Linked DNA regions of Homo sapiens. The protein of the gene in region 1 purifies or fractionates together with the protein of each later gene. This does not show direct contact. Each region holds a gene or a part of one and is shown on either strand. Other genes may lie near its edges.

Region 1 (4,430 bases):
TTGCTGGCTTTGTGTCAGAGCGTGGGGTCCCATACCGCCCTACGGACCTGTTCGATGAGGTGCACCTCCACCCTGCCCTCCCAGCCCCCTGCCCTGGCTCCGCCTGACCATGGCTTACCTAACCTCCTGCTTACCCCGCTAGCTGGTGGCCCACGAGGTGGCAAGGATGCGGGCGGATGAGAACCACCCCCAGCGTGTCCTGCGTCACGTCCAGGAACTGGCAGAGCAGCTCTACAAGAACGTACGAGGGTAGCAGGACGGGAGGGCGTCGTACCGCCTTGATCCCTGGGCCCCTGCCCCACACCTGCCGTCTCCCCACAGGAGAACCCGTACCCAGCCGTGGCGATGCACAAGGTACAGAGGCCCGGTGAGAGCAGCCACCTGCGACGGGTGCCCCGACCCTTCCCCCGGCTGGATGAGGGCACCGTGCAGTGGATCGTGGACCAGGCTGCAGCCAAGATGCAGGGTGCACCCCCAGCTGTGAAGGCCGAGAGGAGGACCACCGTGCCCTCAGGGCCCCCCATGAGTGCGTAATGAGGGAGGGGAAGGCAGGCCCCGAGCGTGGCCCAGGATGGGCGTGGGGTCAGGGGTCCGAGTGTGTGTATTCTGTCCCCGCAGCTGCCATACTGGAGCGGTGCAGTGGGCTGCATGTCAACAGCGCCCGGCGGCTGGAGGTTGTGCGCAACTGCATCTCCTACGTGTTTGAGGGGAAAATGCTTGAGGCCAAGAAGGTGAGGGCTGTGCAGGCTCCAGCCGGGCCAGGGCAGCGGGTTTCAGAGGAGACCCAGGCTGCACTTCACCCTTGTGAGTGCTGACGCTGCCCCAGGGCCTCCTCTGCCTAACAGACAGCTAGAGGTGGCTGGGCTGGCCGGAGGGTAGGTGGGCTCCAGGTCTCCTCTCTTGACCTCAGTGAGGGGTGGGTCGGGCCTGCGCGGGAGACCCAGCCAGGGAGATGTACTTCCATTTTTAGAAATCAGAAGGTTTCACTATTATGTTTCGTCTGTGTCCTTCCCCTTAAATTGGGTAGGCCCATACACGACCTGTTCTTTGTACTTGATGGAAAACAGAGCTTGCTCCCTCCATACGTGACCTGTTCCTTGCATCTTATGGAAACAGAGCTTTTTGCTCCTGCTGTTTTGCTCTCTGTGGTGCTCACTTAACGCCTCTGGGGTCTTTCATCATGGCCAGTTGGAGACTCTTGTTTTTCATTGGCTGTATGGTGTCCCTTTGGGGCGGCCAGTTTTGTGATGAACGTTGTAGCAATAGAACGCAAACTCCAAGGCTTTCTGTGGCCGGGCCTGTGCCAGGCGAGTCACTGAGCCAGCCAGGCAGCTGTGAGCCTGTGAGCAAGGGGGCCCGGCCCGCAAGGCCTCCCTCCGGAGCGCACCTCCCTGCCAGCTCACAGGTGCAGCATCTGCGTCCTTGTGTCTGGCCTGGTGAACTTGTACTTGTGGAGTTGTCGGGCCCACTGGAGGTTTTAGTCTTTATTGGTCGGCAAAGCCCCAGAGTCTGGCACACCCCACCTGAAAGGCATTTGGGTCTCCTGGACACCTGCTGCCCTCCCTGCCAGGGCCCCGAGTGGGTCTTCTCTGTGCCCTCAGCCCGTGTCTCCTTTCCCCACCCCCAGCTGCTCCCAGCCGTGTTGAGGGCCCTGAAGGGGCGAGCTGCCCGCCGCTGCCTCGCCCAGGAGCTGCACCTGCATGTGCAGCAGAACCGTGCGGTCCTGGACCACCAGCAGTTTGACTTTGTCGTCCGTATGATGAACTGCTGCCTGCAGGTGAGGCCTCTTATCCTGCTAGTGACATGGCTCATGGCGCATGAGCGGGAACAGGCGGGCAGACCCTGGTCTGTGAGTGAGAGTGGAGAGACGGTGCAAGAGACTCCTGTGCCAGTGGGCAGGGGTCCTCGGTCTGCAGGGAACAGGGTGGAGAGAACCATTGTTGGGGGCAGGTGCTGGGGCCTGGGGTCTCCTGATATTGAGCCTCTGAGGCAGCCTTGGGGAGCTGGAGCCAAGGGTGTCAGGTGCTGGTCTGTGGTGGTTATGGGGTGGTGGGGGCATGGTGGGAGGTGAGTGCTGCCTGGGAGGGGAGAGGTCCTGACGGTCTCTCGCTCTACCTGCAGGACTGCACTTCTCTGGACGAGCATGGCATTGCGGCGGCTCTGCTGCCTCTGGTCACAGCCTTCTGCCGGGTGAGTGCTGGCATGGCTGAGGTCTCCTTCCCAGCCCCCCCTTCCTGGTGGCTGAGGTCTCCTTCCCAGCCCCCCTTCCTGGTGGCCGAGGTCTCCTTCCCAGCCGCCCTTCCTGGCTGCATCCAGCTGACCTTCTCCCCTGGCTCCTGCAGAAGCTGAGCCCGGGGGTGACGCAGTTTGCATACAGCTGTGTGCAGGAGCACGTGGTGTGGAGCACGCCACAGTTCTGGGAGGCCATGTTCTATGGGGATGTGCAGACTCACATCCGGGCCCTCTACCTGGAGCCCACGGAGGACCTGGCCCCCGCCCAGGTGCGCAGGGACTCCCTGGGCTGGGGGCTGGGGGCTAGGGGCTGGGGCAGCGTGGCCCCGGCTCATGCGTGTGGTGCCGTGGCAGGAGGTTGGGGAGGCACCTTCCCAGGAGGACGAGCGCTCTGCCCTAGACGTGGCTTCTGAGCAGCGGCGCTTGTGGCCAACTCTGAGTCGTGAGAAGCAGCAGGAGCTGGTGCAGAAGGAGGAGAGCACGGTGTTCAGCCAGGCCATCCACTATGCCAACCGCATGAGCTACCTCCTCCTGCCCCTGGACAGCAGCAAGAGCCGCCTACTTCGGGAGCGTGCCGGGCTGGGCGACCTGGAGAGCGCCAGCAACAGCCTGGTCACCAACAGGTGAGGCAGGGACTGGGGGTTGGGCCCAGTGGAGGCGGGGCCGTGGTGGGCAGGGCCCATGCCCACAGTTTCTTCTCTGGCCCAGCATGGCTGGCAGTGTGGCCGAGAGCTATGACACGGAGAGCGGCTTCGAGGATGCAGAGACCTGCGACGTAGCTGGGGCTGTGGTCCGCTTCATCAACCGCTTTGTGGACAAGGTCTGCACGGAGAGTGGGGTCACCAGCGACCACCTCAAGGGGCTGCATGTCATGGTGCCAGGTACGGGGGTTTGGGCTGGTGATTCCCCCTTGGATGGGTGGGGCTGGGCACAAAGTGTGAGAACTGTCTTCCCCCAGACATTGTCCAGATGCACATCGAGACCCTGGAGGCCGTGCAGCGGGAGAGCCGGAGGCTGCCGCCCATCCAGAAGGTTTGCGGGGGCCGTTGGGGCTGCGGGGGCCCAAGGCCCGGGCTGCATCCTGAGCTCCTGCTCTTGTTTTCGAGCAGCCCAAGCTGCTGCGGCCGCGCCTGCTGCCGGGTGAGGAGTGTGTGCTGGACGGCCTGCGCGTCTACCTGCTGCCGGATGGGCGTGAGGAGGGCGCGGGGGGCAGTGCTGGGGGACCAGCATTGCTCCCAGCTGAGGGCGCCGTCTTCCTCACCACGTACCGGGTCATCTTCACGGGGATGCCCACGGACCCCCTGGGTGAGCCTGCAGACTCTCTGGCCCTGTCGCCCCCTCTCCCCCAGGTCTTTGGGATGGATGGGCTTTCCCTGCCTCCCTCTCCCTTTTCTCGGGGGTTCTGGGTGCCCGTGGGAAACGGGCCTTTGTCTGCTCCTTCCCCACCCACTTGGGATTCCCCATAACTGTGGTACCCTGAGATTCTGGGACCCCCCCCCCCTTACCTTCCTTGCTTCTGACTCTGCCTGGCCTGTCCTAAGTTGGGGAGCAGGTGGTGGTCCGCTCCTTCCCGGTGGCTGCGCTGACCAAGGAGAAGCGCATCAGCGTCCAGACCCCTGTGGACCAGCTCCTGCAGGACGGGCTCCAGCTGCGCTCCTGCACATTCCAGGTGGGGCGCGGTGCGCGGGTGGGGCTCTCATCCCCCGCCCTGGTCTTTCTCCTGCAAACCGGTCTTTCTTGTATGAACCATTTTTAGGCCAGTCTCCAGCAGTGGCCCTGTTGTTACGCTTGCATGTCTGGGGCCCTCACTGTGGCTCTTGAGTTGATGTCCACTGTTTGATGTGCGGTCTTTGGGTCCTTGTCCTTTCCTTGGGGCGCCGGCCCTCAAGTCCGTGTCTTGGGTGTGCCTTGCAAACCCAGGCCTCAGCTCACAGCCACTGAGATTTCGAGTTTACACAAGCGCTTGCCTTCGTGTGACACAGATACAGGCCTTTGCCTGGGGCCTGCTTCTCTCTCTGTCATGGCTGCGAGGGGAAGGGGAGCCTGGCAGTGTCAGAGTTGGGGGAGGGGCTGGGGGGCCACCCACACCCCTAAGGGCTGCTTTTACTGACACAGCTGCTGAAAATGGCCTTTGACGAGGAGGTGGGGTCTGACAGCGCCGAGCTCTTCCGTAAGCAGCTGCATAAGCTGCGGTACCC
Region 2 (3,507 bases), on another chromosome or scaffold:
CACTCCACTGGCACGGGCTGGCCGCAGACGCAGCTAGAACGTGCCGCTGTCTCCTCAGGACGCTGCTTGCAGTAAGATGGGCTGGGGAGGGGCGCGGGGAGGGTCTGTTGCAGCAGGCTGGCATCAAGAAGGCAAAAGCCAGAGCAGGACGTGGTGTGCGGCCGGGTAGAGCAATATACACTATGTACAGACTCTGCGAATCAGTCCGCTCGGCGGGCAGCGTCCTCGCCAGGTCCAGGCGCCTTGGCCGGGGAGGAGGGGGCACCAGTAGGGAAGGGCGGGCTGGTCCAACACCTTCTTGGCACTCGAGGAGGGCGGGGGAGGAAGTGCCGATGGCACCTCCCGATACAAAAACATGGAGAGAATTCTTTAAATAACGGCACGAAACTGAGACTGTCCCCCGAGGAACCTCCGTGGGCCTCGGGCTGGGGGAGGGACCGCAGTGCAGTCTCTGCAGTGGACTGGGTGCCATTAGCAGCAGCGTTTCTTTCGTTTACTGTTCTTCGTGAGCTTCACCACATCGTTCTGTTGTTGCTGCTGCTGTTTTGCCAGGTTGTCTTTCTTTGCTCGGAGGACCAGCTCCGTGATGCAGTTGAACATCTGTGGAGAGGAAAGAGGAAGGGCCCGCCTCAGACCTGGCCAGGAGGCCCCTGCTGGCCTGCACGGCTGCCTCCCCGCCTTCCGGGGCCCAGCTCTTTCTACCTGTGCATTTTTGGTATGTATGTCTTCAAAGCCTATTCTAGAAGGAGGTGGTGAATTATTTTATTTAAAGGTCAAAAAGGAACAACATTGCTAAAACCCCACCTCTACAAAAAACACAAAAATTAGCCGGGAGTGGTGGTGCACACCTGTAGTCCCAGCTACTTGAGAAGCTAAGGTGGGAGGATTACTTGAGCCCAGGAGATCGAGACTACAGTGGGCTGTGAACACACCACTGCACTCCAGCCTGGATGACAGAGTTAGACCCTGACTCAACAAATAAATAAGTCTGAAAAAAGGAACACCATCAGAGGCCCATGAGCTGTGTGGACTTGGGGAAGTCAATCTCACAGGGGTTTTCCAGTCCTTCTTTTAGAGAGACCAACCCCTTTCCTTCAGCTGGAATCTTTTTTTTTTTTTTTTTTTTGTGAGATGGAGTCTCGCTCTGTCGCCCAGGCTGGAGTGCAGTGGCGTGATCTCAGCTCACTGCAAACTCTGCCTCCCTGGTTCACACCATTCTCCTGCCTCAGCCTCCCGAGTAGCTGGGACTACAGGCGCCCACCACCACGCCCGGCTAATTTTTTTGTATTTTTAGTAGAGACAGGGTTCCACCATGTTAGCCAGGATGGTCTCGATCTCCTGACCTCGTGATCCGCCCGCCTCGGCCTCCCAAAGCACTGAGATTACAGGCGTGAGCCGGCGCGCCCGGCCCAGCTGGAATCTTATGACATGACAGATGAAAGTGCCCCTGCTGTTCACGGACATAGGTGACCCGGGGTCTGCCTGCTCCACGCCACTTCATGGCATGTGGGGCCCAGAGAGGTGAAGTCACCGCCCAAGGTCATACCAGCCTTGCCCACAGGCCCAGGTGGATGGGCCAGCATCAGGACACCAGCCTGACTTACAAAGGAGCCTGTGCCCGCTGCTGTGTGGCCCCTGTGCCCTGAAGCAGTGGGATCCTCGACTTCCACAGGCCTCTGGGCTCCACACAGCACAAGGCGGCCAATGAGGCAGAGGACTGGAGTGGAAACTGTGCTTGGCTTTGGTGTGGGACAGAGGTTTACTCAGTCTCTTACTAGCCAGGTGGTGGTCCTTGAGTTACTTCAACACTTGGAGCCTCAGTTTCCCTATTTGAAATGTGGGTATAATTGTACCTACCTCAGAGGACTGTTGAACTATGAACTAAGATCGTTAAAGGGCCTGGCACATAGTAGGCACTCAATAAATGGCAGTTACTATGACATTTTCTGTTGGTCATTTAGATGCCTCAAGCAGGCCAGCAGCATGGAGAAGGCGGCCACGGGTGTGTGGCAGAGCCACAGTGGCCCAGGGCCTCACCTCTTCCACGTTGACATTCTCCTTGGCGCTGGTCTCGAACAACTGGATGCCCATCTGCCCGGCGAATTTGTAGGCATCTTCCGTCTCCACCACCTTCCGCTCAGGGTCGTCATTCTTATTACCCACTTCAAACGAAGGCAGAGTCAGCGCAGCCCTGAGGGGCGCAGCCGGCTGCCTCTCTCCCACCCAACCCCGACCCGGCCCTGAGTGCAGCCTCACCTAATATTCGGCACACATCATCACAGTTCTGGTTGATTTCGTGAAGCCACCGCTTGACGTTGACAAAGGACTCGGCACTGGTGACGTCGTAAACCACAATGACCCCGTGGGTCCCCCGATAATACCTGCAGGGCCAGAGTGTGCGGCAGCATGTCAACCCCGACAGGAGTCACCCCCTTGCCGGGACCCACCTGCCCACGTCAGGACACTGACCCGGAAAAGGTGAGGGTGGCCCTGGAGCCTGGGCTCTCACTCAGCCTCGGCAGATGCCCCCGAGCCACAACAGGCCAGCAGGAGAGGCTACTGCGGCAGCACTGACTCCCCCTGCCCGCCCGGGGCACCAACAGGGCGGGAGGGCCAGCCCCTGGGCAGCAGAGCAGGTCTGAGGAGTCACCTCCTGCTGTTCAGAGTCTGCTGCAGGCTTGAAACATCTTTGAAGTTCTTGCTTTATTTTGGGAAATCAGGCAGTTTTTGTATTTGACATCATGTTATCACTGTCTTTGAACATTCAAAAAAATATTTGCTCCTCAAACCTGTTTTAGAGAACCTTTCCAAGAAGCCACACCATCATGACGCCCTGGCAAAGTCTGTGCCCCTCCCCTGGGGCAGGTAGGCACCTCCCTTCCTGCTACTCTTGGCTCATCTGTGCAGGTGGCAGGAAAAGCATGGAAGCCACACAAGCATCCAGGGATGGCTGGGGAGAGGGCGCCCAGCAAAGCCATCACCCCAAACATGCAGAGCCCAGGGCCAGCCAGGAAGGCCAGAAGGAAGGGGAGGCCCAACTCTCCTCTCCAGACCCCATGTCCCCATTCATCCCAGTGGCACAGGACGACATCAATCCCCGGAGGAGGAGGGGGACCACAGCCTCCGCTTCCCCGAGAGCTGTCGAAGAGCCGGAGGCCAGGCGGCAGCCCCGCCCCACACTGTGCAATCAGCCAGAGCTGTCCCTCTGTCCCCTCTCCCCAAAGCCGCAGGGACCTCCACCCCAGGGCTCCTCAGGACAGCACACAGACAAACCATGAGTGGACAGGCCGCTTCCTCCCGGCTTTCTGGCTGCCACCTGCCCCAGCCCTAATTACCTCCACCCCCATGAGGTTCATGGGGACAGCCCAAGCCCCAGTTCAGGAACAGCCCAAGTCAGCGCAGGCTGAGCAAGAATGGGGCAGCCAGGCTGACTTGTGGCTGCAGCTCCATTCCTGTCCACCTGCCCATCAGCTCTCTGGCCAATGCTTCACATCTGAGGCCCGATCT
Region 3 (4,430 bases), on another chromosome or scaffold:
TAACACGAGATAAGAATTGTAAGTTATAATGGAGAGAAGGATGAAAGATAACTGACAGGTAAGTTATAGGAAAAAGAAAGAAGCACAAACTGGGTTTTTTGTTGGAGAATGGGGGCTCCAGGGAGGCCCTCATTACTTGGTTTCTGCTAAATAGTCCTTTCTGTTACAGCAGGTGCTACAGAAGTAACAACAGAACCAATCTAGTTCTTAACTGACTTAATGTTTGAGGGTATAACAATGATCTGGTCTAGCCCTATATATCAGTTTCATCTTGTTGCCTCTTGTCCTTAAATTGAGGGCACAGAATAAATTTCCTTAAAAGGCTCTATCCCCAAAGACTTCTTCACTTCTAAACCCTTAGCCATCACCACACTAACAGACTCTTAACACGTTCCTCTTGGGGGTCAAATAACTTCTCATTCAGCCTGTCTCGTATCACAGTCATCATTTCCCCAGTAAACCCAGTTCCATTTCTAACATCCCTGTTTTTGCTAATGGTATCATCATTCTAGTCACCCAGTCTCAAAACCTCAGCTGATCTGGGATTATTTCCCCTCTTACCTCCCTAAATGAAAATCCGTCATTTACTGTAAGTAAATTCTTAAATAACTAAGTAAATTCTTTTTAATGTCTCTTTTGTCAGTCTCTTCCATTCTTATTGCTACCATCCTAGTTCATACATTTTTGCCTCATACCTATGCTGTTAAATTTTTTTCCCGACTACTCTTTCTGTTTCCATTTTCTCTTCAGTCAAGTCAGCCCTGTACTGTAAGCATTAACTTTCCTAAAACTATGCTTTTGTTATGATTTTCACCAGGTTAAAAATGTTGAGTGGCTTCCCATTTTCTAAAAGGTAAAGTCCAGTTGTGTTGGCTGAGATTGAAAGTGCTGTACATTTCTTTCCAACCAGCATTTTTTCAGTATCTGAACCAGACACTGCTAGTGCTAAGTGTGATCAAGTTGAATAGACAGAGTAGTTGTTCAGATGAGTTCAGAGTCTTGTGAGACAGAAGACAGATATGTAAACAGATGAATTGATGTAATAGAATGTGATAACTGCTCTTGAATTACGAATGTAGATACATATCCATTATGCATTTAATTTAATGTAAAAAAATAGCTGTGATATTTTCAGGAAACCCATTTCTCAGTCATCACAAGTTAAAGTTGTGACTTGATTAAAACCTGTTAAAATTCAGTGGAAGCAAAGGTATGCGTTTACCTGTATGCTAAAGGCACAAAAAACTAATCTAAGCAGAAGGCTGGCCTTTTCTTTTCCCAAGTATTGTGCAGATACAATTGGCTTGAACATGTCTCTAAACTGACTTTCCCAGGAACTGGCCAGGCCATCTCTTTCTTTTTGGTGCAGATCAACCTGCCAGAAGTCAGAAGTAAACTTGTTTTGGTTTGTAAATTAGACACGTGAATGATAGACAATGATGACCCATTGGAAAAGGAAAACTTCATTATCCTTGCAGATGAAACCAAAAAGTATGCTCTTTAAGGATGAGAAATGAGAAGCTGACCAGTCACTAACTCATTTAAACCATGCAGCCTCCTGTTACAGTATGTATTGTTATGTCCATTTTATAGCTAAAAAACTGAAGTTCAAAGGTTAAATGGATGAAAGAGCAAGTGGCAGAGCCAGGATGCAAACTCAGCTCTGTCAGATTCCAAAATCCATGTGCTTTCCACTATAACATACTGTCTCCCAGCAGAATTACTGTCCCTGAAGAACCATAGAACAACAATTGCCAGGCTTGTTGTTGGAAATATTCAACTGATACTCAATTGTTAAATTTTTTTTAAGTCAGTTATCTGTCTTAGAAGACAAAACAACATCACGAGTTTTATTTCTGCTAGAGGATTATTTGAAGTTTTTTTTGCAGTTCAGATAAAGTCAGGTTATGGGCATCGCTAAAACACAGATTCCTTAACTGTTTGATGGTTAATCCTTCATACCATACTCTGGAGTTTCTCCCCAGTGTGGAATCTTAGTGGAATCAATGACGTCATCATCCTACATTAGCATTTGAAGGGTTTGCATTCCAGGCTGCCTCTAGAATTGTGGCCCATGAATCATCTTACTGAAAATAATCAATCTACATGTTATTGTTCCCTTGTGGTATTTTACAAGTTATGGTGGCATTATTTCAGAAAAGCAAAAATTTAGGGGACTGATGGACAGATAGACAATAGAGACGGTCAGATACATATTTGATTGAAATCATGTTACAATTTCATTTAAATGAAATAAAGCCATCTAACAAATTATATAGAAATGATTCAGCCGGGTGCAGTGGCTCACGCCTGTAATTCCAGCACTTTGGGAGGCCGAGGTGGGCGGGTCACTTGAGGTCAGGAGTGCCAGACCAGCTTGACCAAAATGGAGGAACCCCGTCTCTACTAAAAATACAAAATTAGCCAGGCATGGTGGCACAAGCCTGTAATCCCAGCTACTTGGGAGTCTGAGGCAGGGGAATCTCTTGAACCAGGAGGCGGAGGTTGCGGTGAGGCCGAGGTTGCGGTGAGCCGAGGTTGCGCCATTGCACTCCAGGCTGGGCAACAAGAGCAAAACTCCATCTCAAAAAAAACAAACAAAAAAAATGTAATGTTTCAGTTTCCTGGTAATAATATTCTGATGTTAAAAGACATATCTTTTTTAAAATGTTCAATGATAAAAAATTTATTAATATAAAAGTTGTTATTCATTTTCATTAACATCCATTCCAGTAGCTTAACTAATGTAGTTCTAGTTTGGCCTTGTCTCAGATGAGAATACCTGAGATGGTGTAAACAGATATCCAGGTAGACAGACCTTTTGTTCTTGTTTTGAGATAGAGTCTTGCTCTGTCTCCCAGGCTGTAGTGCAGTGGTGCAATCTCAGCTCACTGCAACCTCCACCTCCTGGGTTCAAGCGATTCTCTTTCCTCAGCCACCTGAGAAGCTGGGATCACAGGTGTGCGCCACCATGCCCGGCTAATTTTTGTATTTTTAGTAGAGATGGGGTTTCACCATGTTGGCCAGGCTGGTCTTGAACTCTTTATCTCAGGTGATCTGCCTGCCTCGGCATTCCAAAGTGCTGGGATTACATGCGTGAGCCGCTGCACCCAGCCCAGACCTGTTTTTAATAGCTTTGCACTAATGTTCTCATTTGAGGGAAGAGATATCTGAATGTTTGTTTATGGGCATAAGGCTACTTCCTTCTTTTCTTCAATATACATATAAATCTTGCTGACATCATATATGAGAGACAGAGAAAGAGATGTGTACACACACACACTTACACATTCACACATTCACACTCACAGAGAGATATAGCAGAGTTGCATGAGTCTTAGAACTAAACAAAACAAAAACCTGATACCTATTATGTTGTCCCAGAAAGCGAATTAAACTGGATCTTAAAAAGACATGTATGCGGCCGGGCGCAGTGGCTCACGCCTGTAATCCCAGCACTTTGGGAGGCCGAGGCAGGTGGATCACGAGGTCAGGGGTTCGAGACCAGCCTGACCAACATGGTGAAACCCTGTCTCTACTAAAAATAGAAAAATTAGCTGGGCGTGGTGGTGGGCACCTGTAATCCCAGCTACTTAGGAGGCTGAGGCAGGAGAATTGCTTGAACCTGGGAGGCGGAGGTTGCAGTGAGCCGAGATCGCGCCATTGCACTCCAGCCTGGGTGACAAAGTGAGACTCCGTCTCAAAAAAAAAAAAACGTGTGCTAGACCTAGTTCTATTTAACTGTATTCACATTAACAACTCTGGCCTCAGTACTCATCTGTAGAATGAGAGTGCTGAATTAGATTATTGCTGAGGCTCCTTCCAGCTTTGTGAATCGTTGTTTAGCTGAGGTTTTTCCACCATACAATTCCTAAGGCTGATAAAATGAGAGGATCAGATGTAAGCAGTGGTTACCAAGGGAGTCTCTGGAGTCAATTTACCTGGGTTCACATCCCATTTCTACCACATACTAGCTGTGAGGCTTTGAGCAAGTTTTTTAGCCTCTATGCCTCAGGTTTCTCATCTGTTAAATGAGGAGGATGATGATAATGATGAATTTGTTGGGGATGGTTATAGCATATCACCTAAGGTTGTTGTGAAGACTGAATTAGTTAATACCTGTACATGTCAAGTACTTAGAACACTGTCTGGCATACATTAATGTTTAGCTCAATAAATGTTTATCTTTTTTTCATTATTACTATTATTGTTTAAATTCTTCTTAGAAAACTGCTATAGAACTCTGAAGTGGTGGTGATTATTGCTGATAGTATATCATAATTAATTTCTCTATTAAGCATAGATCCAGATAATCTGGTAACCTGGAATCTGCTTTAATGTAAATAGAGCACTATGTATTTGAATAGAGTACTACAGTGTTATAAATGTTGACCCTAAAAAATACTAGCTTAATTATAGAGCTGATCTCT
Region 4 (4,430 bases), on another chromosome or scaffold:
GCAGCAGGAGGTGGGGCTTAGATCCAGTTGACTGACTAGTATGGAGCTCCTCCTTGGTTAAGCCGGTTGCCAGAAGACAGAACTGGAGGGGAAAGTAGCTCTGCTCATGCCGTCTTTCCATTTCCGTAGAGGAGAGAGGCAGTCAGTCCTCCTCTCAGCCTCTTGGCTTCCTTCGTCCTAATGATCACCCTGAAAGGTGCACAGTGCACCTTTGCCGGCGTGATCTCATTTAATCCTTAGTACAGCTGAGTGGTAGCCATTACTGTTCCCATTTTACAGATGAGGAAACATCAGAAAAACAAGACAACGCACTGGGGGTTCCGTAGCCATAAGAGACAAGCCAAGTGAGAAACAGACCCAGCCCCTCTGGCCCTAGTGTGCATCGTCTCCTGGGTGCCTGGCCTTTCCTCAGCTGCTGTTCCAAGTTATTGTTAGAACAACCTCTTATTCCATGAACGTCAAACCACTTCCTTCCCCTGGTTGCCCGTTCAAACCTTTTTGGGCCATAGATAGTTTGGGCAGCAAATGGAACTCCCTGTGTTTACCCACCTATTCTTTGCCCCAGCCACTACCAGTCCAGATGGGAAGAAAGATGGTCCTGGGTGGGACACCAGGCGGAGAAAAGCTGGGTTAACTAAAGGGCAAATCAATAATTCATACACAAAACCAGAGTACAAAAACCACTGCCTCCATTTATTCCACCTCAAATTGCCCTCTGGGGAGTCTTGTGGTCCACCCTAAACCCACCAAGTGGGGAGGTGGTGGTGGGAGCGGGAACACATGTAACTCCTCTTACACCCCATATCCTATTGTGTAGTTTTAAAAAGTCAGTGTTTATGGGCTTTGCCAATTTTGAATACAGTTTGTCTAAGAACACGTGTTTCCTACAGCGCTGAGAGCTTAATAAAAGAATTGCAACGTGGGGGAAGGTGGCACAACAAATGTAATTGTTGACCTAACAACAGAGAAAGGAGCAGATCTTTCTAATGAGTTCATTAGGTGCTTCCTAAAAGATCCCGGACTGCACACCAGCACCCACTTATGTAGCACAAGGTGCAACTCCGAGGGGCGTCCTAGAAGAGCTGCTGCTCTTCGCCCACCAGGGAGTTCTAACTGTATTGTATGCAAGTTTAAGTATAATAATATTGGCCCAGTTTGAAAGAAGTTAAACTTTTTCTTGGGTTTCTAATAAGGTAAATGGTATTTCCACCTTCTCAGAGGAGAATTCAAAGGTTTTTTTGATTCTGTTTTCTCAGTCATCCATTTGAGGCCTGGTCCTTGGCATTCCTCAGTGTGGCAGGGAGCTAGCTCCCAAGCCACCTGGCATATGCTGGCCACGGTGAAGCCATCTCAACGTTGCTCACCCCCACTTGTGGGCCCCCTGAAGTTATGCTTTTGAAGAGTGTCCTAAGAACAGATTATCCTATTTTTAATTATGTATTGAGCCCATCGAAAACCTGGAGTTGTAAGGAGAATCATCTCTAAGAGGGAATACAAACATCTCCATCTTTTTTTCTCTCCCAATTCTGAATGGCGCCAGTGTGAGCTAGGGTAGTATTCACACCAAGGGGTGGCGTTTATCTCTGCATATGTAAAGCTGCAGTGCTCCACCTGAAGGGATAAATTCTTGGCCACTTCTGGTGGGTCACTACTTTATTCAAAGATGTTTGGGGTCTGCCCATTGCCTCCTGGGCAGGTGGCAGGCAACTTTGTGAGACCTGCAGTGCCTCTGATCCTTGGTCCCAGCCTGTGTTTCCAACCTTGCCTCGCACCACCCTAACATGAGCCCCAGGCTCAGCAAGGGTGTCTTCTCATGGTCTCCCAAACTGGCCATGGTACAAGCAATTCTGATCCTTTGAGACTTAAGTGCGCTGTGGATCACTGCACCCCTACAACCGCAAAAAACCCAAACACAGAGTTTGTCAAGAATTTGGTGGCTTCCCAGGCTCTTGGAGCCCTCCCTGGGTTCCCCTTAAAAGCCCTGTCTGCCTAAAACACTCTTGTCCTGTGCCTCTTCATGCCTCATCCTCCCAGTCATTTCTGGTCCCTGTGTCACTCATGCCCAGGTTGGCACTCCTCACTCTCTGCACTGTCGCTGCAGTGAAACTCAGCCCTTTCCTGCCACACCTCCCCATCAGCACAGCCAGGTGCCCAACTCCCACCTCGGGTCTCGTGCAGCGGCCCGTGCTCCGCAGATCTGGCTCTCACTTACACATTGCCCCGGGCAGGGTTGGTTTCTAATTCATGTGTATCTTGTCTCTGTAGTGTGCCTGCCAGCTTCTCCACAGCTGGCCTGGGTCGTCGTCTTTGTGGCCCCTCACCGTCCCCTAGTGGAGCACTCTTTCTATAGTAGGTGCTCAAGAAATACATTTTCAACTCAATTGAAGGGAATAGGCTCCCATAACAGAATGAACTCATTTCAGAAGTTCATTACCAAGTCTTGAAAACCTTTTTTTATAGATCCTCCTGGACCGAATCCAGCTCTACCTTAATTAGCAAAGCAATTTGCAACACCCTTTCCCAAAAGTGCTTATGCGTCCCTTTGTGTGACTAGAATAGGGGCCGCTGTACCAATTGCTGTCACCACCCAAAATTCAATTTGCAAAATCGAAATCAGTGCCTGCAGCACTGATGTAGATTTGTATGTATAAAAGTTTAATATGGTAAAGAGAAATTTACTGACGACTGAACAGGGGAAATGCAAAAGGAGCAAAAATAGAGCTATAAAGGACACTCGTCAGATGAACATCTATTTTATTCACATTTGGGGAGCAGTGCTGAATTTTTCATAATGTCCCCACTGCTGCCTTTTCAAACCCAGCACTGCTATTAGTCCTAAAACGTCTGTGATCTCATTAGGTGTGAATGCAAAATCAGGTAATTTAAAGCATGTATTAAGAATATTTCTAAAAATGCACCGTCCATTTCATCAGAAAAACTGCATTTCAGAGCTCAGGAATGTTAGTGCTGGAGTCTGTGAATAAAGTGTAAGCTATAGGAACGTGGTGAGGCTTCTGGAATTCGACAGATGTCTCCACTGACATCCTTTTAAGTAGTAAGCATGACTTTTTTAATTGCTGAGCTTGAGTTATCTGTGGCTAGGAACCCAGCATTGACCAAGGCTTCATCACTCCTCAAGCAGTAAGAACTTGGCTAGAAATGGGCATGTCTCAAACTCCTGTCACCTCCACTGAGCTGCTTTTACAGCCTCAGTTAGACACCTTCTGACCTCAGACGGGAAACTGGATGGCAAGTCTGTTTTAGGACTCAGGTGTTTGGTTTTCTTTCTCAGGTTACAGCTGAGTCCAGGAATTCTGGGAACTCTCTAGGAGACTGTCTCTTTCACACAGGAAGTTTCAGAAGTGAGAGTGGTCGGGTGCGGTGGCTCAAGCCTGTAATCCCAGCACTTTGGGAGGCCGAGGTGGGCGGATCACAAGGTCAGGAGATTGAGACCATCCTGGCTAACACGGTGAAACCCCATCTCTACTAAAAATACAAAAAATTAGCCAGGCGTGGTAGCGGGCGCCTATAGTTCCAGCTACTTGGGAGGCTGAGGCAGGAGAATGGCATGAACCCGGGAGGCGGAGCTTGCAGTGAGCCAAGATTGTGCCAGTGCACTCCAGCCTGGGCGACAGAGTGAGACTCCATCTAAAAAAAAAAAAAAAAAGAAGTGAGAGTACCTGAGGGTCACTTTGCTTTTTGCACTTAGACTTTGTACATTTTGCTCTTATAGGAGCAGCACTCTGCAAGGGTGACCCGCCCCCCATGCCCCTCCTGTCTGTCCTGCTGCTCATCAGGGATGGGACTACGTGGCAAGGAAGGACAGCACCTTATACCACACCTGCTTGAGGGTGTGATACAAGGTTGCTGAGCAACCTACTGGTGACTTCTCACTGCTAGAGAAGTTGGAGCAGGAAGGGAACTTGAGTTGAAAGGTATTTGAGGGTGGGGATCTGGTCAGAATGCAGGTTTATCAGGAAGCAGTGTTAGGAGCCCAGGAGAGAGGCAGAGGCTATGGGAGGAAGGCAGATCAGCTTGTGGACTCCTTTCCTAAGAGCTTGGTTGGGAAGGTGGTGGGGATGGTGGCAGGACGGGAAGGTCCAGATAAGCGGCCATCAGGTGAAGACCAGGTACAGCAAACAGCTGCTCTCTCGGCAGACCATGGAGAGCTCAGTGACTGCTGAGAGCCACCAGGGTCAGTCAGGAGTGAAGCCTCAGCAGTTTTTCATCCTTCCTCACTTCCGTTTCCAGCGCCACCCTCGGCAGTGCACACCAGCCATGCTGATCCACTGGTAACATGCTGACCCATTCCCTGGGCACGGGCTCCACCTGGTCCTGTGCCTGGAGCACCCCACTCCCTTGCCGGTACATGCGCCCATCCTCAGCCACTCATTGTCCAGCACTTCCTGCCTGGCCCCATAGGCCCATAG
Region 5 (4,430 bases), on another chromosome or scaffold:
GCAGAACTGTTTTCATCTTGCAAAACTGAAACTCTATACCTATTAAGCAGCAACGCTCCATTCCCCACCTCCCCCAGGCCCTGGCAACCACCACCCTTCTATTTTCTGTCTCTACGAATTCGACTACTCTACGTACCTCATGCTTGCATAAGTGAAATCATACAGTATTTGTCTTTTTGTGTCTGCCTTATTTTCGTTTGGCATAATGTCCTCAAGATTCATCCATGTGTAGCATGTATCAGAATTACCTTCCTATTTAAGATTGAATAATATTCCATTGTATGTATATACCATATCTTATCTACTCATCTGCCGATGGATACTTGGGCTATTTCCACCTTTTGGCTATTGTGAATAGCGCTGCTAGGAAGATAGGTGTGCAACTATCTCTGAGATCTGGTTTTCCATTCTTTTGGGCATATACCCAGAAGTGGAATTGCTAGATCATATGGCAGTTTTTTTTTTTTTTTTTTTTTGAAAGAGTCTCACTCTGTTGCCAACGCTGGAGTGCAGTGGCCCGATCTCTGCTCGCTGCAACTCCGCCTCCCAGGTTCAAGTGATTCTCCTGCCTCAGCCTCCCAAGTAGTTGGGATTACAGGCGCACACCATCACGCCCGGCTAATTTTTGTATTTTTAGTAGAGATGAGGTTTCACCATGTTGGCCAGGCTAGTCTCGAACTCCTGACCTCAAGTGATCCACCCTTCTCAGCCTCCCAAAGTGCTGGGATTACAGGCGTGGGCCACCACACACAGCCATCATATGGCAATTTTATGCTTAAATTTTTGAGGAACTACCATACTGTTTTTCATGGTGACTGCATCATTTTACATTCCCACCATCAGTGTGGAAGGGTTCCAATAACTTCCCATTCTCACCAATACTTGTCATTTGTATTCTGGGCCTTACATTTATCATTCTTTATCCATTCCATGAACTAGAATAATAAACACTTTTATTTTAAATGAATTCCTATTTTCTTTCTTTTTTTTTTTTTGAGATGGAGTTTTGCTCTTGTTGCCCAGGCTGGAGTGAGATGGCGCGATCTTGGCACACAGCAAGCTCCGCCTCCCAGGTTCAAGCGATTCTCCTGCCTCAGCCTCTCATGTAGCTGGGATTACAGGAATGCGCCACCACGCCTGGCTAATTTTGTATTTTTAGTAGAGACGGGGTTTCTCCATGTTGGTCAGGGTGGTCTTGAACTCCCGACCTCAGGTGATCTGCCTGCCTCGGCCTCCCAAAGTGTTGGGATTACAGGTGTGAGCCACCGCGCCTGGCGGAATTTTCCTATTTTCAAAGCAAAAATATAGCAAAGAAATGTGGCTACTGGCTGGGCTCGGTGGCTCACACCTGTAATCCCAGCACTTTGGGAGGCTGAGGTAGGCAGATCACAAGGTCAGGAGTTTGAGACCAGCCTGGCCAATATGGTGAGACCCCATCTGCACCAAAAATACAAAAATTAGCCGGGCGTGGTGGTGGGCACCTGTAGTCCCAGCTACTCAGGAGGCTGAGGCAGTGAGAATTGCTTGAACCCGGGAGGTGGAGGTTGCAGTGAGCCGAGATTGCGCCACTGCACTCCAGCCTCGGCGACAGAGCGAGACTCTGTCTCAAAAAAAAAAAAAAAAAAAAAAAGAAGTGTGGCTAATATTTAATTGGCCCACACTATGTGTTTGGTACTTTACATGGAGTATCTCAGTTAATCATCACAACTCCATGATGAAAAGAGAGATGAAGTGACTACCTTAAGGCCACACAGTAAGTGGTGAAGGGGGATTCAAATCCGGTATTTCAAAGCTCAGACTCCTAATCATTTCACCATATTCCTTCTTTAGTGGATATTTCTTACCTCAGCTGCAGTAAATTTTTCCCTTGGCCCAGCTGTAATCCACAGTTTCACTCCATTTAACTTCTCAGATGTGATTTCATCTTTTAAGCTGGAAATACAATTTTAAAAGCAAATATGAAGTCCATAATTTAAACCAATTTATGTATTATTTTAGTCTCTTAACTATTTGGAAGCAGAGGCCACAGAGGCTCAGAGATGAAGGGATTTAGAGGTAACTGGTCCAGTCTCTCTCCCAAAGTGAGAATTCCCTCTACAGGCCTGCCCCAGAGTCATCTGGCCTCTGTTCAAATACTTCCAGTAAGTCAAGGTGTTCAAATCAAGCCATGCTAAAGCATAAGGAAGTCTGCAACTACTAATTCAATCAGCCCTACCATTAGCTTGTATGATTACATATCCTCACCTATTAAGAAAAACATGCACATACACAAAGTTATTCTCATTTAATTCTCATGTTTCCTTTCCCTAGTACTGACCTGAGTCAAAATATGAAGAAAGCCTCTAACATCTTAAAAAGCTACATGTGTATAATTAGAATAATCTTTTGGCTTGTGATTTGGAAAACAACTTAATAATATGCTGCTTTAATAATATCCTAATTGCTGATTTCGAAAGACATTTTTTTTTTAATTTTTGTTTTTGACAGAGTCTCCCTCTGTTTCCCAGGCTGGAGTGCAGTGGCATGATCTCGGCTCACTGCAGGCATTCACTTCCTGGGTTCAAGGGATTCTTGTGCCTCAGCCTCCTTAGTAGCTGGGATTATAGGCATGCACCATCATGTCTGGCTAATTTTTGTATTTTCAGTAGAGATGAGGTTTTGCCATGTAGGCCAGGCTGGTCGCCAACTCTTGACCTCTAGTGATCTGCCTGCTTCAGCCTCCCAAAGTGCTGGGATTACAGGCATGAGCCACCGCGTCCTGCCCAAGAGACGTTTTAATAAGAATTTATTTCATTCTGAATAATGTTTTTTTATTTTTTTAGACAGAGTCTCGCTCTGTCACCAAGCTGGAGTGCAGTGGCGCAATCTCGGCTTACTGTAACCTCCGCCTCCTGGATTTAAGCGATTCTCCTGCCTCAGCCTCCCGAGCAGCTGGGACCATAGGCACGCACGATCATGCCCAGCTGATTTTTGTATTTTTAGTAGAGACAGGGTTTCGCCATGTTGGCCAGGATGGTCTTGATCTTTCTTTTTTTTTTTTTTTTTTTTTTGAGACGGAGTCTCACTCTGTTGCCCAGGCTGGAGCGCAGTGGCACAATCTCGGCTCACTGCAACCTCTGCCTCCCGGGTTCAAGCAATTCTCTGCTTCAGCCTCCCAAGGAGCTGGGATTACAGGCGCCCACCACCACACTTCGCTAATTTTTTTTTTAATTTTTAGTAGCGATGGGGTTTCACCATCTTGTCCAGGCTTGTCTCGAACCCATGACCTCATGATCCACCCGCCTTGGCCTCCCAAAGTGCTGGGATTACAGGTGTCAGCCACCGTGCCGGCCAGTCTTGATCTCTTGACCTCGTGATCCGCCCGCCTCAGCCTCCCAAACTGCTGGGATTACAGGTGTGAGCCACCACGCCAGACCTAATTCTGAATAATCTTTAAATTGAGCTTCTCCCACCTAAACAATCTATGTTACCTAAGAAAATAAAGACTTCTCAGCTTTATCAGCAGGACAATATCATTTAGAAGGGAAAACAATATACATGGTCAGTCACCTCTGAATCTTCCAATTACTCCGAAGTTTTTTCTGCATGGATTTGTAGCCATTGTTGGTGGTAAATATCTCCTTTTTGTAGGCATTGAAAAGAATGGTGCTCCGCAGCTCTTTCTCCATGGTTACCTTATGGAAGAAAGATGGGATCAGAAAATCAATAAACAATATTCCAAAGACCCTAAAAGTAATAAATAGTTGCCTTCTACTACTAATTTATCAAGAAAGGGTATACAACTGAAACCTATCTAGGAAACTCCTACAATTCTCAAAGGTTGAGAGTGAAATGCAAAAGCATAGCACAGAAACCTAAGACCAAAACCAACCCAGCCCTCCCCTACCCGCTTTTGCTTTCTGCCTCTTGCCCAGATCCTCCCAACAGCCTACACCTATGGCTCTGCCCTGCCATCACCCTGCTCTTGTGTCCCAAGACCATGTTTCCATCCTGATTCATTACTGCTAACTACTGTTAAGCGCAGGGTATAGTCTTCTAGATTCTATTTTTCTTTTTTTTGAGACGGAGTCTTGCTCTGTCTCCCAGGTTGGAGTGCAATGGTGTGATCTTGGCTCACTGCAACCTCCATCTCCCGGGTTCAAGCGATTCTCCTGCCTCAGCCTCCTGAGTTGCCAGGATTACAGGCACGTGTCACCATGCCCAGCTAATTTTTGTATTTTCAGTAGAGACGGGGTTTCACCATGTTGGTCAGGCTGGTCTCAAACTCCTGACCTCATGATCCACCTGCCTTGGCCTCCCAAAGTGCTGGGATTACAGGTGTGAGCCACTGCACCCAGCTCGAGATTCTTTTTATACATATATTAACTTACAGTTTTATTTTATGAAATAGGATCTTACCATATGCATTATTCTGAAACACCTGTTTCACC
Region 6 (4,430 bases), on another chromosome or scaffold:
GTTCTTGTTGTTGTTGTTTTTTGAGATGGAGTCTCGCTCTGTCGCCCAGGCTGGAGTGCAGTGGCGCGATCTCTGCTCACTGCAAGCTCTGCCTTCCAGGTTCACGCCGTTCTCCTGCCTCAGCATCCCAAGTAGCTGGGACTGCAGGCACCCGCCCCCACACCCGACTAATTTTTTTTTTTGTATTTTTAGTAGAGACGGGGTTTCACCATGGTCTTAATCTCCTGACCTCGTGATCGCCCACCTCGGCCTCCCAAAGTGCTGGGATTACAGGCGTGAGCCACTGCGCCCAGCGTTGACTTTAACACATTTATCTCTGACCAACCTTGCACTTGCCTTTTTTTTTTGGTGTGTGTGAGATAAATCAGCTTCTTTCACTGATACTTGTGAAGGAACTTTGCCTAACATTTATGAAAACTTTTTATTTTGGTTTTACTTATTTTATAACTTAGCCTATTTCAGATCACTGAATTATGAAATGAGTATTTCATTTCACTGCACTACTGTCTTACAGATGTCTTCAAATGTTTGCTAAAGAGTCTGGCCTTTCACTATATATTCTAATCATATATCCTGTATGAACAACCATAACACAAATCTTTCTTCACTTACCCAGATACGAAATGGTATATACTCAGAGGTCCTTTTAATCAAATGATCATGAAGTAAAGTTTTACAAAATATGTGTAGTCTTCTAATTGATTTCATTAGTTTCATTTTGGGTTTTTTTTTTTTTTTTTCTTTTTTGAGATGGAGTCTCGCTCTGTCGCCCAGGCTGGAGTGCAATAGCGCCATCTCGGCTCACTACAACCTCTGCCTCCCAGGTTCAAGCGATTCTTCTGCCTCAGCCCCCTGAGTAGCTGGGACTGCAGGCGTACGCCACCACGCCCAGCTAAAATTTTTTTTGTATTTTTAGTAGAGATGAGGTTTTACCTAATTGGCCAGGCTAATCTCAAACTCCCGACCTCGTGATCTGCCCGCCTCGGCCTCTCAATGTGCTGAGATTACAGGCATGAGCCACCGTGCCCAGCCTCATTTTGATTTTTTAATTATTATTACAGAAGCATTCGCCTAGTTCATTTTAGATTGTAAGGATATAGAAATAGAGAAGGCCGGGCATGGTGGCTTACACCTGTAATCCCAGCACTTTGGGAGGCCAAGGAGGGGGAGGATGACAAGGTCAGGAGTTCGAGACCAGCCTGGCCAACGTGGCAAAACCCCGTCTCTACTAAAAATACAAAAGTTAACCAGGCGTGGTGGCGGGCGCCTGTAGTCCCAGTTACTCAGGAGGCTGAGGCAGGAGAATCACTTGAACCCAGGAGGCGGAGGTTGCAGTGAACCGAAATCGTGCCATTGCACTCCAGCCTGGGCAACGAGCAAGACTCTCTCTCAGAAAAAAAAAAAAATAAGAGAGAAGATCTTGGGTTAGAGCTGCATACCATCTGCTTTATTTGCACTATTACTATACAACATGGTTTTGTGTACAGAACCTTTTGTACTGTATTAACATTGAGTCCAATCTAGCTGATCAAGTATCTGGAATATAATTATCTTCCTGCTATTTTCTAAACTGGTTCTCATTGATGTTAGTATTGCTACTGTACATAGTTGATCTTTTTTGTTTTTTTGAGACGGAGTCTCGCTCTGTCGCCCAGGCTGGAGTGCAGTGGCGCGATCTCGACTCACTGCAAGCTCCGCCTCCCAGGTTCACGCCATTCTGCCTCAGCCTCCTGAGTAGCTGGGACTACAGGCACCTGCCGCCACGCCTGGCTAATTTTTTGTATTTTTAGTAGAGACAGGGTTTCACCATGTTAGCCAGGATGGTCTCGATCTCCTGACGTCGTGATCCGCCTGCCTCGACCTCTCAAAGTGCTAGGATTACAGGCGTGAGCCACCGTGCCCGGCCGCCTAGTTGATCTTAATTCTGGTAGGAAATTTGGAAATCATCTAGTGCAGCCCCTCCTTTTTCTCAATCATGACATTTGAGACTCGGGCACAGTGGTTTATACCTTAATCTCAGCACTTTGGGAGGACCGGGGTGGGAGGATTACTTGAGCCCTGGAGGCTGAGGCTGCAGTGAGCCATGATCATGCCACTGCACTCCAGCCTGGGTGACAGAGTAAAACACTGTCTAAAAAGAAAGATATTGAGACCCAAATTACTTAAGTGATTTACCCAGTTACCTTCCTTCATGGAATTTGAGTGAAACTTTCTTTCCGTTTTACATGGATTTATTGTTCAGGATAACCTAGATTGGTGGTTTCCAAGCTTTTTAATAGAACTTTTTTTTTCCTTAAAAAAAAAAAAAATCTCACCTAGTCCGGGTGCGGTGACTCACGCCTGTAATTCCAGCACTTTGGGAGGCCAAGGCGGGGGGATTGCTTGAGCCCAGGAGTTCGAACCAGCCTAGGCAACATGATGAAACCCCGCCTCTGTAAAAAATACCGAAATTAGCCAGGTATGGTGGCGTGCGCCTGCAGTCCCAGCTGCCCGGTAGGCTGAAGCAGGAGAATCGCTTGAACCTGGGAGGCGGAGGTTGTGGTGAGCCTAGATCATGCCATTGCACTCCATCCTGGGCAACAAGAGCAAAACTCTGTCTCAAAAAAAAAAAAAGAAAAACATGTGAGCTCATGCCTGTAATCCCAGCACTTTGGGAGGCCAAGGCGGGCAGATCACTTGAGGTCAGGAGTTTGAGACCAGCCTGTCCAACAGGATGAAACCCCATATCTACTAAAAATACAAAAATTAGCCAGGCATGGTGGTGGGCACCTGTAATCCCAGCTACTCAGGAGGCTGAGGCATGAGACTGGTTTGAAGCCAGGGGGCAGAGGTCGCAGTGAGGCGAGATTGCACCACTGCATCCAGCCTGGGTGACAGAGTGAGACTCCATCTCAGAAAAAAAAAAAAAAAAAAAAAAAATATTGAGCTCTAATACATAAAACCTAATAGACAGGACCCAATTCTGAAACCCCATCCAGTTGGCTTGAAGTAATTTCAGGAACTTTAGGGCGCTGAAAAACATTCCTCTAAGTATTTATTTCTTGAGTTTGTTATTGTGCAAATTCATATATTTCATCATAATATTTTGGTTGAAATTAGAAAGTAGTAGTAATAGGCAATCCAAAAAAATGGATACAGAACATAATGAAGTCTTAAACTTTATTCAGAGTAAGAACACTTTGTAGAAATAAGTACACTTCATATTTGTACATCCCTGCTAGACAGTTTGAAGCCCCTGGAAATTATTTTACATTTATTTGAGTTATTTATAACATGTGAATTGGCTTCGAGGTGTTGAAAATATTCTAGACTTGCACACCAAGAATTACCAATAAGACCCTGACCTAGTTAGGGCTTTTTGTAGTCTTTTCTTTAGTGTAGAAGTCAAAGAAACCGATACAGATATGTCTTGATAGGCTCATATGCTATAATTGGTTGGATATTAGAAAGCCTGATTTTTAAAAAGCCATGAATGAGTCTTCACTTCATGAATCTGACTTGATTCTTTTTCATTCAATAGGAAAAAGCTCCTCAATTTCTGAAGAGAAAGGTGACTCTGATGATGAGAAACCAAGGAAAGGAGAAAGACGATCATCTAGGGTCAGACAGGTAACTCAGATACCTCCTAAAGCATTACCTCTTCAGTAATGCTTTGGATATCTTCTCTTCTTCAGACTTGTTTTGAGTTTGTATGTCTCTACATTTAGGGGTTTTGTTTTTCTTTTTTGGGACAGAGTCTGGCTCTGTCGCCTAGGCTGGAGTGCAGTGGCACAATCACAGCTTACTACAGCCTCGACCTCCTAGGCTTAAGCAGTCCTTCCACCTCAGCCTCCCAAAGGATTGGGATTACAGGCATGAGCCACTGCCTGGCCTCTAGATTTCTTTGTGGTTATCTTCCTTCTCCTCTTTGTCATCTTTTTGTTGTTCGTTTTGTCTTTTTATTTAGATCTGCTCTGCCTTTTAGATTTCTAAGTGAATATTTTTTAAAAGTTTAAATTTGAAAATTAGCAGGCTGCTCTGTATTCTTAAAGCACATTATTAGACAAGATATGACATAATTAACCATTCAATCAAAGCTTTAAAGTTATATAACACTAAGTGGGCAGAATACAAAAATGTTATGTGTAGTGTAATTATGACTGTACAAAGGAAATGATTAGAGGAAAGAACAAAAAGAAATATACCAAAATGATAAAAAGATAATCGTATTAATTGATAGTAGGTTAGTTCCTTTCAGCCCCCTATCCACCCTTTTACTTTCCAGATGTTCTGCTAATATTTTACTGAAAAAAAAAAAAAGGGGGTGCTTGAAGCTAAAATTTAAACTACATACAAGTAGCTTCATTGTGATATTTCTTTTGGTCACTTTGTTTTGATTCCCCTAAGGGCTACGTTAGTCATGATTGTCTCCTGTCACTCCTGTTTCTGTT
Region 7 (4,430 bases), on another chromosome or scaffold:
TTAATTTATTTTTTTATTGATAATTCTTGGGTGTTTCTCACAGAGGGGGATTTGGCAGGGTCATGGGACAATAGTGGAGGGAAGGTCAGCAGATAAACAAGTGAACAAAGGTCTCTGGTTTTCCTAGGCAGAGGACCCTGCGGCCTTCCGCAGTGTTTGTGTCCCTGATTACTTGAGATTAGGGAGTGGTGATGACTCTTAACGAGCATGCTGCCTTCAAGCATCTGTTTAACAAAGCACATCTTGCACCGCCCTTAACCCATTTAACCCTGAGTGGACACAGCACATGTTTCAGAGAGCACAGGGTTGGGGGTAAGGTCACAGATCAACAGGATCCCAAGGCAGAAGAATTTTTCTTAGTGCAGAACAAAATGAAAAGTCTCCCATGTCTACTTCTTTCTACACAGACACGGCAACCATCCGATTTCTCAATCTTTTCCCCACCTTTTCCGCCTTTCTATTCCACAAAGCCGCCATTGTCATCCTGGCCCGTTCTCAGTGAGCTGTTGGGCACACCTCCCAGACGGGGTGGTGGCCAGGCAGAGGGGCTCCTCACTTCCCAGTAGGGGCGGCCGGGCAGAGGCGCCCCTCACCTCCCGGACGGGGCGGCTGGCCGGGCAGGGGGCTGACCCCCCCCACTTCCCTCCCGGACGGGGCGGCTGGCCGGGCGGAGGGGCTCTTCACTTCCCAGTAGGGGCCGCCGGGCAGAGGCGCCCCTCACCTCCCGGACGGGGCGGCTGGCCGGGCGGGGGGCTGACCCCCCCACCTCCCTCCCGGACGGGGCGGCTGGCCGGGCGGGGGGCTGACCCCCCCCCACCTCCCTCCCGGATGGGGTGGCTGCTGGGCAGAGACGCTCCTCACTTCCCAGATGGGGTGGCTGCCGGGCGGAGAGGCTCCTCACTTCTCAGACGGGGTGGTTGCCAGGCAGAGGGTCTCCTCACTTCTCAGACGGGGCGGCCGGGCAGAGACGCTCCTCACCTCCCAGACGGGGTCGCGGCCGGGCAGAGGCGCTCCTCACATCCCAGATGGGGCAGCGGGGCAGAGGTGCTCCCCACATCTCAGACGATGGGTGGCCGGGCAGAGACGCTCATCACTTCCTAGATGTGATGGCGGCCGGGAAGAGGCGCTCCTCACTTCCTAGATGGGATGGCGGCCGGGCGGAGACGCTCCTCACTTTCCAGACTGGGCAGCCAGGCAGAGGGGCTCCTCACATCCCAGACGATGGGCGGCCAGGCAGAGACACTCCTCACTTCCCAGACGGGGTGGCGGCCGGGCAGAGGCTGCAATCTCAGCACTTTGGGAGGCCAAGGCAGGCGGCTGGGAGGTGTAGGTTGTAGCGAGCCGAGATCATGCCACTGCACTCCAGCCTGGGCACCATTGAGCACTGAGTGAACGAGACTCCGTCTGCAATCCCGGCACCTCGGGAGGCCGAGGCTGGCGGATCACTCGCGGTTAGGGGCTGGAGACCGGCCCAGCCAACACAGCGAAACCCCGTCTCCACCAAAACCAGTCAGGCGTGGCGGTGCGTGCCTGCAATCGCAGGCACTCGGCAGGCTGAGGCAGGAGAATCAGGCAGGGAGGTTGCAGTGAGCCGAGATGGCAGCAGTACAGTCCAGCTTCGGCTCCGCATGAGAGGGAGACCGTGGAAAGAGAGGGAGACCATGGGGAGGGGGAGGGGGAGGGGGAGAGGGAGAGGGAGAGAGAGAGGGCATAATGCCTATGTTGCTTTATGATACAATTATCTTTCCAGATGTGTTGTCTCCTCAGTCAATCGGCTCCTGGAGGGTGGGACTTCTTTTTTTTTTTTTTTTTTTTTTTGAGATGCAGTCTTGCTCTGTCACCCAGGCTGGGGTGCAGTGGCACGATCTTGGCTCACTGCGACCTCCGCCTCCCAGGCTCAAGCAATTCTCCTGCCTCAGCCTCCCGAGTAGCTGGGACTACAGGTGCCCGTCACCACGCCCGGATAATTTTTGTATTTTTACTAGAGACGAGGTTTCACCATATTGGCCAGGCTGGTCTCGAACTCCTGACCTTGTGATCCTCCTGCCTCGGCCTTCCAAAGTGCTGAGATTACAGGCATGAGCCACCACGCCTGGCCGGAGGGTAGGACTTCTGAGATTTTCAGACTCTATCATGCCTAGCTTTGTGTGTAGATTGGCAGGTTCCTGGTCAAAGGAGTGCAGTTGGGAGGACTAGGGACCTACTGACCCTCTTTTCCCCAGGCGTGCTCCCATGCATATGCCCACACTCTCCCACACACTCCTGCTCCTGCCCTCCTGGCCTGTGACTCTTGGTGCCTCTTCTTGCAGCCAGTGTGGCTGTCTGTGGACTTTGATAACTGGAGAGACTGGGAAGGGGATGAAGAGATGGAGCTGGCTCATGTGGAACATTATGCAGAGGTGAGAGACAACACCTACTGTGTTCTGCCCACTTGATCATTCTTTGTGTTTCTCTGCACACATGTCTCTGGAGGATTGTCACTGGGGCCAAGCAGAGATATGCAAGCTCTCTAGGCAGGTTACTCATTGATGCTGATATTCTTTACGTATTTTGTGCAATGTTTATTTAATAGGGATGAGAGGAAAGAATATTATTGAAATTATATACATTGATTCACTTATTCAGTGTAGAGCCTGTATTCTGAAGAAGTTTGACAAAACGTTTTTCCACTTTTCTGTAATTCTTGTTCTACTGTTTTCTGTGTGTGTGTGTGTGTGTGTGGTTTTCTGTCGCCTAGGCTGGAGTGCAATGGCGCGATCTCAGCTCACTGCAACCTCTGCCTCTGGGTTCAAGCAATTTTGTCTCATCCTCCTGAGTAGCTGGGATTACAGGTGCCCACCACCACTTCTGGATAATTTTTGTATTTTTTTAGTAGAGACGGAGTTTCACCATGTTGGCCAGGCTGGTCTCAAATTCCTGACCTCAGGTGATCCACCTGCCTCACCCTCCCAAGTGGTGGGATTACAGGCGTAAGTCACCATGCCTGGCCTGTGTGTGTGGTTTTCTTTTTGAGACAGAGTCTTGCTCTGTCTCCCAGGCTGGAGTGCAGTAGCTCCCTGCAACCTCCACTTCCCAGGTTCAAGTGATTCTTGTGCCTCAGCCACCTGAGTAGCTGGGATTACAGGCATGCGCCACCACCCCTGGCTAATTTTTTTTTGTATTTTTGGTAGAGATGGGGTTTCATCATGTTGGCCAGGCTGGTCTGGAACTCCTGGCCTCAAGTGATCTGTCTGTCTCAGCCTCCCAAAGTGCTCACATTACAAATGTGAGCCACCAAACCCGGCCTCTGTGTGTGTGTGTGTGTGTGTGTGTGTGTGTGTGTGTGTGTGCGCGTGTTAAGCCAGACAACTTCATGGGATGTTAAAACTAGCAGTATAAAAACTCACATCATAAATAATTGGCCCCCAGTAAATCACACACTGTCGTTATATTATTTGGTTTCAGTTATAAAAACACTAGCCGACTCCAATCTGGATTTGTGTTAAATTTTCTTTTAAGAAGGGGATCAATTTACTTTTCTCAAATTAATTCCAGTGATGTTTTAAAGATGGGAGCAGTTGCCTGACCAGTTCTGGCTGCAACCATTCTTCTATGGACCATCAATGTGCAGATTGTTCTTCCTTCACTCCCTTCTCCCTTGTGATTATTTTTTCTTCCCACTAGCTTTTGAAGAAGGTCAGCACCAAGAGACCTCCACCTGCCATGGATGATTTGGATGTAAGTAAAGCCTTCCCCTCAACCCTTCAGTTTCTTTGTAGCCCTTAAAAACAACCCACTAGAGAGCTCCTATCCCAGTTCCTAGCACACAGTAGTTCTCAGTGCCTGTTAACCAAATTTGAGTTTGACCCAAGAGGGCTAATATTCTTTTTTTGGGGGGTGGGGGAGGAGTTTCACTCTTTCGCCCAGGTTGGAGTGCAGTGGCCCGATCTTGGCTCACTGCAACCTCTGCCTCCTGGGTTCAAGAGATTCTCCTGCCTCAGACTCCTGAGTAGCTGGGAATATAGGTGCCTGCCACCACGCCCAGCTAATTTTTGTATTTTTAGTAGAGACAGGGTTTTGCCATGTTAGCCAGGCTGGTCTCGAACTCCTGGCCTGAGGTGATCCACCCGCCTCGGCCTCCCAAAGTATTGGGATTACAGGCGTGAGCCACCACGCCTGGCCCAAGAAGGCTAATATTCTTCTCCAGGCTTTAGAAAACCCTAGCAAGACCCTCCTGCTTTCCATCTACCCCTCTGTTTCTCCATCCTAGAGAAGACCTACCCCAGCTGTAAGGAGCAATAGCATTAATTAAAATTCTGAAACTAGGGTGGGTGTGGTGGCTCACGCCTGTAATCCCAGCACTTTGAGAGGCCAAGGCAGGTGGATCACTTGTGCTCAGCAGTTTGAGACCAGCCTGGGCAACAGGGCAAAACCCTGTCTCTACCAAAAGT

What was found.
Region 2: the proteins of SBF1 (region 1) and RAB35 purify together in Homo sapiens (affinity purification with mass spectrometry, with the first as the bait; one large-scale study listed by BioGRID). This does not show direct contact.
Region 3: the proteins of SBF1 (region 1) and CTTNBP2NL purify together in Homo sapiens (affinity purification with mass spectrometry, with the first as the bait; one large-scale study listed by BioGRID). This does not show direct contact.
Region 4: the proteins of SBF1 (region 1) and UQCC2 purify together in Homo sapiens (affinity purification with mass spectrometry, with the first as the bait; one large-scale study listed by BioGRID). This does not show direct contact.
Region 5: the proteins of SBF1 (region 1) and IFT52 purify together in Homo sapiens (affinity purification with mass spectrometry, with the first as the bait; one large-scale study listed by BioGRID). This does not show direct contact.
Region 6: the proteins of SBF1 (region 1) and ACIN1 purify together in Homo sapiens (affinity purification with mass spectrometry, with the first as the bait; one large-scale study listed by BioGRID). This does not show direct contact.
Region 7: the proteins of SBF1 (region 1) and PTGES3L purify together in Homo sapiens (affinity purification with mass spectrometry, with the first as the bait; one large-scale study listed by BioGRID). This does not show direct contact.

The regions. Positions count from the first base shown.
Region 1 is NC_000022.11:50,460,630-50,465,059, reverse strand, and holds part of SBF1 (myotubularin-related protein 5), read left to right. Parts: coding exon 1-59; intron 60-142; coding exon 143-241; intron 242-321; coding exon 322-526; intron 527-618; coding exon 619-731; intron 732-1,627; coding exon 1,628-1,777; intron 1,778-2,121; coding exon 2,122-2,190; intron 2,191-2,342; coding exon 2,343-2,501; intron 2,502-2,586; coding exon 2,587-2,855; intron 2,856-2,940; coding exon 2,941-3,113; intron 3,114-3,190; coding exon 3,191-3,264; intron 3,265-3,341; coding exon 3,342-3,537; intron 3,538-3,773; coding exon 3,774-3,901; intron 3,902-4,347; coding exon 4,348-4,430. UniProt on the Homo sapiens protein: Acts as an adapter for the phosphatase MTMR2 to regulate MTMR2 catalytic activity and subcellular location. Promotes the exchange of GDP to GTP, converting inactive GDP-bound Rab proteins into their active GTP-bound form.
Region 2 is NC_000012.12:120,096,774-120,100,280, forward strand, and holds part of RAB35 (ras-related protein Rab-35), read right to left. Parts: intron 2,382-3,507; coding exon 2,257-2,381; intron 2,163-2,256; coding exon 2,038-2,162; intron 601-2,037; coding exon 472-600; 3' UTR 1-471. UniProt on the Homo sapiens protein: The small GTPases Rab are key regulators of intracellular membrane trafficking, from the formation of transport vesicles to their fusion with membranes.
Region 3 is NC_000001.11:112,402,482-112,406,911, forward strand, and holds part of CTTNBP2NL (CTTNBP2 N-terminal-like protein), read left to right. Parts: intron 1-4,430. UniProt on the Homo sapiens protein: Regulates lamellipodial actin dynamics in a CTTN-dependent manner. Associates with core striatin-interacting phosphatase and kinase (STRIPAK) complex to form CTTNBP2NL-STRIPAK complexes.
Region 4 is NC_000006.12:33,704,271-33,708,700, reverse strand, and holds part of UQCC2 (ubiquinol-cytochrome c reductase complex assembly factor 2), read left to right. Parts: intron 1-4,430.
Region 5 is NC_000020.11:43,593,937-43,598,366, reverse strand, and holds part of IFT52 (intraflagellar transport protein 52 homolog), read right to left. Parts: intron 3,675-4,430; 5' UTR 3,669-3,674; coding exon 3,550-3,668; intron 1,933-3,549; coding exon 1,845-1,932; intron 1-1,844. UniProt on the Homo sapiens protein: Involved in ciliogenesis as part of a complex involved in intraflagellar transport (IFT), the bi-directional movement of particles required for the assembly, maintenance and functioning of primary cilia. Required for the anterograde transport of IFT88.
Region 6 is NC_000014.9:23,080,927-23,085,356, reverse strand, and holds part of ACIN1 (apoptotic chromatin condensation inducer in the nucleus), read left to right. Parts: intron 1-3,142; exon of another isoform or gene 3,143-3,520; coding exon 3,521-3,609; exon of another isoform or gene 3,610-4,430.
Region 7 is NC_000017.11:42,969,576-42,974,005, reverse strand, and holds part of PTGES3L (putative protein PTGES3L), read left to right. Parts: intron 1-2,309; coding exon 2,310-2,399; intron 2,400-3,663; coding exon 3,664-3,717; intron 3,718-4,430. Other genes in the region: PTGES3L-AARSD1 protein, read left to right, coding at 2,310-2,399, 3,664-3,717.